2 separate regions of the Homo sapiens genome follow, and region 2 is linked to region 1. Evidence: fine-mapped expression QTL. Tissue or cell type: whole blood. Region 1 holds a variant in brackets; the other region holds the start of a gene. All regions are shown on one strand. Distances are between the middles of the regions.

Region 1 (3,026 bases):
CACATCCTAACCCTGAACCAGTTGTATGTCAGTGTTTGTGGTCCTAGGAGTCAGATGCAGGGACATGTGGCCATGCTGAGGCTGCAGGAGCCAGGAACCCCAGGAGATGGGCCTTGCCCTTCTTCAGCAAAGGTAGGGCTAGATGCCTCTTGTTACAGTTCCTTCTAGAGCATTTTGTAACTGGGAATGTGTGGAATTGGGGGTGGGTGGGTGAGAAGGATGAATCCTGACTACTGAGCTAGGGATAAAGGGCAAAGGACACTGAGCAGGCTCTTGTAATAATCCAGGCAAGCACTGATGTGCTTTGGACCATGATGGTGGCAGTGGAAGTAGCAAGAAGTGATTGGATTCTCAATATATTTGGGCAGCAGAACTTACAGGGTTCCCAAACAGGATGAATGTGGGTTGTAAGAAAAGAAGGGGAGCAAAGGACAGCTTCCAAGTTTTTGTTTCAAAGTATTGTTAATTACCAAGACATGGAAGACTATGGAGGGAACATTTTTAAATGACAGAAAACAGGAGTTCAATTTGGGGCATGTTAAATATGAGAGGATTTTTAGAGATCAGGTTGAGATGTTGAGAAGGCATTTGGACATGTTAGCCTGGAGTTTAGGAGCATTTGGTATATATAAACTTGGAAGTCAGCAATAAATTGTAATGGCAAACAAATCCTCCTGCCTTGTATACACAAGAGAGATATTAGGGGGAGTTGGGAGGACAGCTTCTAAATATTTGTTGGATGAATCAATAAATGGAATGAATTATTTTTTCCAGCTGTACATGGAGTTTGTTTAAGCCGTTTGTATTGAACAGTTTGCAATGTGATCAACAGGACATATTTGGGGAATAATCGAGTAGGCCAGTGGTTCTTGGTGTGAGCTGGGAGAACTTTTGCAATTGGAGATGTTGTGAAATCCTCTAGGGACTTTCTCAAGTTACACCACCATTCTTGGTTGAAATTGTTGTGGTGGGGAAATTTTTTTTGAGAACCATCGAGTTAGTGCTAGCATAGAATCTAACAAGAAATGGCCCTGCATCCATTCTCTTTTCTTCTAATAACAGCCCCAGATTTCCATTTTTGGACCTACCTTTTCCTTTTTATCAGGCTAAGTGTTCATGGTGGGGCTCTGTCCTTAGTTCCAGGGATAAAGCCTGTGACCCAAACTTAAACCGCAGATCATTTTCCCCAGGCCATGGAGATTGTTTCAAATGTGGGCACATGGCCTGAATGGGTCATATCAGAGTAAATCTTAGGGCTTCTGGGTTATGCCACCATCACAGGCTCTTGCTTTCCTCACTGAACTTGAACCTAGACGGATGTAAGCTGGAGCTGTGGCAGCCATCATTGCCCTGTGAAAAGTCCACTTGGAGCTGCCAAAGACCACCCCAGGAGCTTCAGAATGAAGACAACCTGGAAGTCAGAGCTGACAGGTGAGAAACAACAAACAACTCACACCTGATTGTATTGCTTGAATTCTGAATTCAGCAGTGCTTGAAGCCAGATTGAGTCCTGACCATTTTAGTATACGATCATTAAGCAATCTTTTGCTTACGACATGTGC[G/A]GTTGAAAGAGTCCCAATTATAATAGGCTGAGAGACTAGGTATAGTAACTAGCACTTAAGTGGGTTGTCTAGGCTGTAGGCCCCAGATATTTAGGAGCTGCACTCAGAGGCTCCTGAGCAAGGTATGTGTCTGGGGTGACCCCAAGTGCACTTGCCAATCTGAACTGTGAGGAAATACCATGTAATGGGGGAGAGGAGAGTGTGGCAGGCATTCAGATACTTTGGGGAAACTCACTTCAAGCAAGTGTTCTGTTCCTTAAAAAGCTGCATATAAACTCAAGTTTTGCAAATGTATATGTACATTTATATATACATATACATAAAATGTATATGTACATTTATATATACATATACATAAAATGTATATGTACATTTATATATACATATACATAAAATGTATATGTACATTTATATATACATATACATAAAATGTATATGTACATTTATATATACATATACATAAAATGTATATGTACATTTATATATACATATACATAAAATGTATATGTACATTTATATATACATATACATAAAATGTATATGTACATTTATATATACATATACATAAAATGTATATGTACATTTATATATACATATACATAAAATGTATAGTTTATTTGTCTTAGATAATTCACTCTGTAGACAAAATCCAGGTGGAGTAACAGTGCCTGTGAACACTGGATCCCCAAGAGTCTATCTTAATGTCGGTGCTAGAGAAACAGAATCAAATCAGAATTCTAGATCCCATTTACGTCTTAATACCTGCACTCTGCAGCTGAAAAAAGCATGAAGAGGCTATTTATGTACTCATCTCATTAAAAAATAAAAGCAAGGCTGGGCGCGGTGGCTCACACCTGTAATCCCAGCACTTTGGGAGGCTGAGACGGGTGGATCATGAGGTCAGGAGTTTGAGACCAGCCTGACCAACATGGTGAAACCTGTCTCTACTAAGAATACAAAAATTAGCTGGGCGTGGTGGCGCACACCTGTAATCCCAGCTACCCAGGAGGCTGAGGCAGGAGAATCGCTTGAACCTGGGAGGTGGAGGTTGCAGTGAGCTGAGATTGTGCCACTGCACTCTAGCCTGGGTGACAGGGCAAGACTCCATCTAAAAAAAAAAAAAAAAGCAAACACAACTCAGTGAACTCAGTGTGTAGAGTGTGCTATGATTTATTTTAAAAGTGCGGGTAGTGGTGGTGGGGAACAGTATGGACATTTCTGCTGTAACATTTATATATTGCTGAAAAATCTTGCATTCCTTAAATATTTCATGTTAAAAACAACAGACTTATGAGAGAGTTATGGTTGGATCACGTTGTTGAAAATTAGTGCTTTGTGAAGAGCGCTAACAAAAGCAAAAAACCAGTCTTAATACAGATATTAGTACAATGAGAAGACAAGTTAAATTTCTTATAAATGTAGAAACACTGTAATAAAAAAGAAAAAAGAAACCTCTTTACTTTT
Region 2 (2,719 bases), 20 kb before region 1:
AGGGATTAACCGCTAAAACCCCAAAAAGAGAGGGAGAGGTAGAGAGAGAGAGAAAGAAAGAAGAGAAGAGAAGAGAAGAGAAGAGAAAAGGAGAAGAAAGAGGAGGAGAAGGAGAAAGAAGAAGAGGCAGGAGGAGGAGAAAAGAGAAGGGAAAGGAAGGAGAGGAGAGCCGGCCCATCCTGAGTTTGGCCCAGAGGAAAGGATGGACTCAGGGCTCCACTGATTGGGACTCTGCATGGTCAGTGGCTCCTCCACACCCCTTCAGCCCAGAGCCTCCCCTCCCCAGGCTCTTACTGAGAAGGCCAGAGAATCACATCGCTAAGTAAGAAGACATAACTGGCTCGGTGTCCTGTTCAGAGGGAGGCTGGCAGAGAGTGCTGCTGCGGCTGGAGGTGGGGAGTTCCTCCCGCCGCCCGACGAGGCAGGCCGTCACACTCACCCACGAGGCCACCAGCAGCCGGCTGCTGCCCCTGGCCTGGGTGGCCCGGGGCCGCAGCGCAGAGCAGCAGGTGAGCAGGAGCTTGGCCAGGGCAGACTCCTGGTGGATGTGCACATCGATGTGGGTGTGCTGTGGGGCCTCCGGGGCCATCTCATCACTGTCGGCTGTTCCCATTGTCAGGGACACAGTCTATGAGGAAGGGAGCACCAGAGAGGAACGGCTGTCAGAAGATTTTCGCAGATTTCATTGGAGTTGGGGAGGTCAGGGGCCAGTGGTGGCTCAAAGTCACCCAATGAATGGCTGTCCTGGTCACAGGGCCGCACCCCTGGCCCCTCACGAGGGGAATGTGTGTAGCAGAGGGGGTGCTGACCATGCTGGAACTGCGGCGACTACAGAGCCTGCGGGAACCTCCCCTTTCGCCCAAGATCTGCTCTGTCCCCCTCATCCTCCTCCCAGGGCCCTGGCGTCTGGGTCAAGCAGCGCCCCACACCTCGACCCCTCACCCCCTCCTCCCGGGCTCTTCCTGCGGCCTCCCCTCCACAGTCCGCAGGCTCTGGGACAGGACCGAGTCCTTGGCTGCCTGTGGAGCTCCTGTGCCAGCAGCTGCGCCCCGGCTGCGCTCCGGATACCCCCATCCCCGCCACCGCCGACCTCCCGCTCCACCGACTGCTGCTCACGCCCGACGGGTTCACGCCGCCCCTGCCCCGTGAAGGACCGCGCTGCGGTGCGGAGGTAGGTCAAAAGCCGGGGCCGCACCTGGCTTCCTCTGCAGTCCCCTTCCTGGAGTGTCATCCCTGGGTGGGGGTCCCTCCTACGCTCCTCCAACTGTGCGGAGGCAGCTCGGGGTGCGTGCGGAAGGAGGCCCGGGGGCCGCCGGGAGTGGGGTGCCGCCTCACCTGCGCTCCTCGGGACCTGCGAGCGGGCGGCGGGAGGGCTGGGGCGCTGGCTGGAGAAGTGGGTTGAGAGTTGGAGGGGGAGGCGGGGAGGGGAGGCGGGGGTGGGGCTGAACTTCAGCCCCTCGGGTTCATGACAGGCTGCAGGGCCTGGGGTCCGTCTGGGGTTCTCCTGCTGCGCGAGGGTCACTGGGCTCTGGGGAGCTGGGAGGGTCCGCGGGCGGACGGCCCTGGGAAAGCCCGTGGGGTCGTTCTCGCCTCCAGCCCCGCCCGGCCAGGGCCGGCGTGCAAGTGTGCGCGAGTGGGAGCGCAGGGGGCGCGCGGGGGCTCGGTCTTCTCCCGCCCGGTCCGCTCCTCCGGGCGGAACCCCCTTTGCCGGGCCCCCGGGCCGCAGCTGGTTTCGGGAAACCGCGCAGCCTGGGCGGGGCCGCAGCCCCCACCCGTGCATCTGCCGTCTCCGCCCTCCCGTCGCTCCCCTGCTCGGGGTCAGCTAGTGTCCGCTCTGCTCGGCCGCGGGCTCCCGGAGGACTGCAGGTGAGGCAGGGCCTCCGCGGCCCGGGAGACCCTCTTGCCGCAGGACCCTCTGTCACGAGGAGTCCCCAGGGCCATGCCCCCACCCCGTCCTGTCCACAGGACGTCTTTCTTCCTCCAACCTGGTTTCCAGGAGGACTCACGTAGGAGGGAGGGACAGCTGGGTGCAGGTGTTTCTCCCCAGAAAAACGGCTGGAGAGCGGGAGGAGAGGCCTGGGGCTGGCGCGTCCCGTCCACCTTCTGCCGCCTGCACGCCTGGACCCTGGCTGGAGCCCTACGGTGGGGTGGCTCCTGGGACGGGGCCAGGGAGCGGCGGGGCTGCCGGACGCTTTCCCCAGCCCCGGGGCACGGGAAGAGCTGGACAGAGGAAAGTGTTCGGGGCAGCCGGGAAGAGCCCACCACCTACCAGGCGTCGGGCGGCCCGCAGGGGAATCTCCGTGGTGCCGGCCTGGTTCAGATCCGACTCTTCAGGCGGGGGCGAGGCAGATCTAGGGGTTGGCGTGGGGCGGGGGAAGCGGTGGTCCTGGGGGCCCGGAGGTAGCTGGAACCCGAGGTGCCCTCAGGGCGAGGCCTGGGCCGTCAAGGGAAGGTCTGGCTGGAATCTGGGGCTGGGCTGGAAGCAGTCTGAAGCTCCTTTGTACGTGTGCGGAATTGTCTAACTCCTGTCCTTTCTAACCCCAAGGAGGCCAGGTGGGTGAAAGAGTGAAACTGCTTTGAAAAGTAGGTAGAGTACGAATGGGAGGTGTTATTAGAATTGTTAATAATATTTGATTTAAACTGTGATACTTAGCCAGGATGTCCATTAGAATTGCCTATGCAGGATTTATTTTAGAGCCAGGCAAGCTGATTCTAAAGT

The links.
Region 2: TMEM176A starts here. The variant in region 1 is fine-mapped to the expression of TMEM176A in whole blood (INTERVAL, PIP above 0.99).

The regions. Positions count from the first base shown.
Region 1 is chr7:150,779,088-150,782,113 of GRCh38, reverse strand. It overlaps LOC105375566 (a long non-coding RNA gene), which reads left to right and starts at 985. Exons shown (of 4, transcript XR_928163.2): 1 at 985-1,431. The variant G/A (reference allele first, on the strand shown) is at 1,563.
Region 2 is chr7:150,799,445-150,802,163 of GRCh38, reverse strand. It overlaps TMEM176A (transmembrane protein 176A), which reads right to left and starts at 1,395. Exons shown (of 7, transcript NM_018487.3): 1 at 1,336-1,395; 2 at 440-628. The coding sequence starts at 613. TMEM176B (transmembrane protein 176B) reads left to right here and starts at 1,800. Exons shown (of 7, transcript NM_001101312.2): 1 at 1,800-1,866. RefSeq lists enhancers at 704-1,403, 1,404-2,103, 2,104-2,719.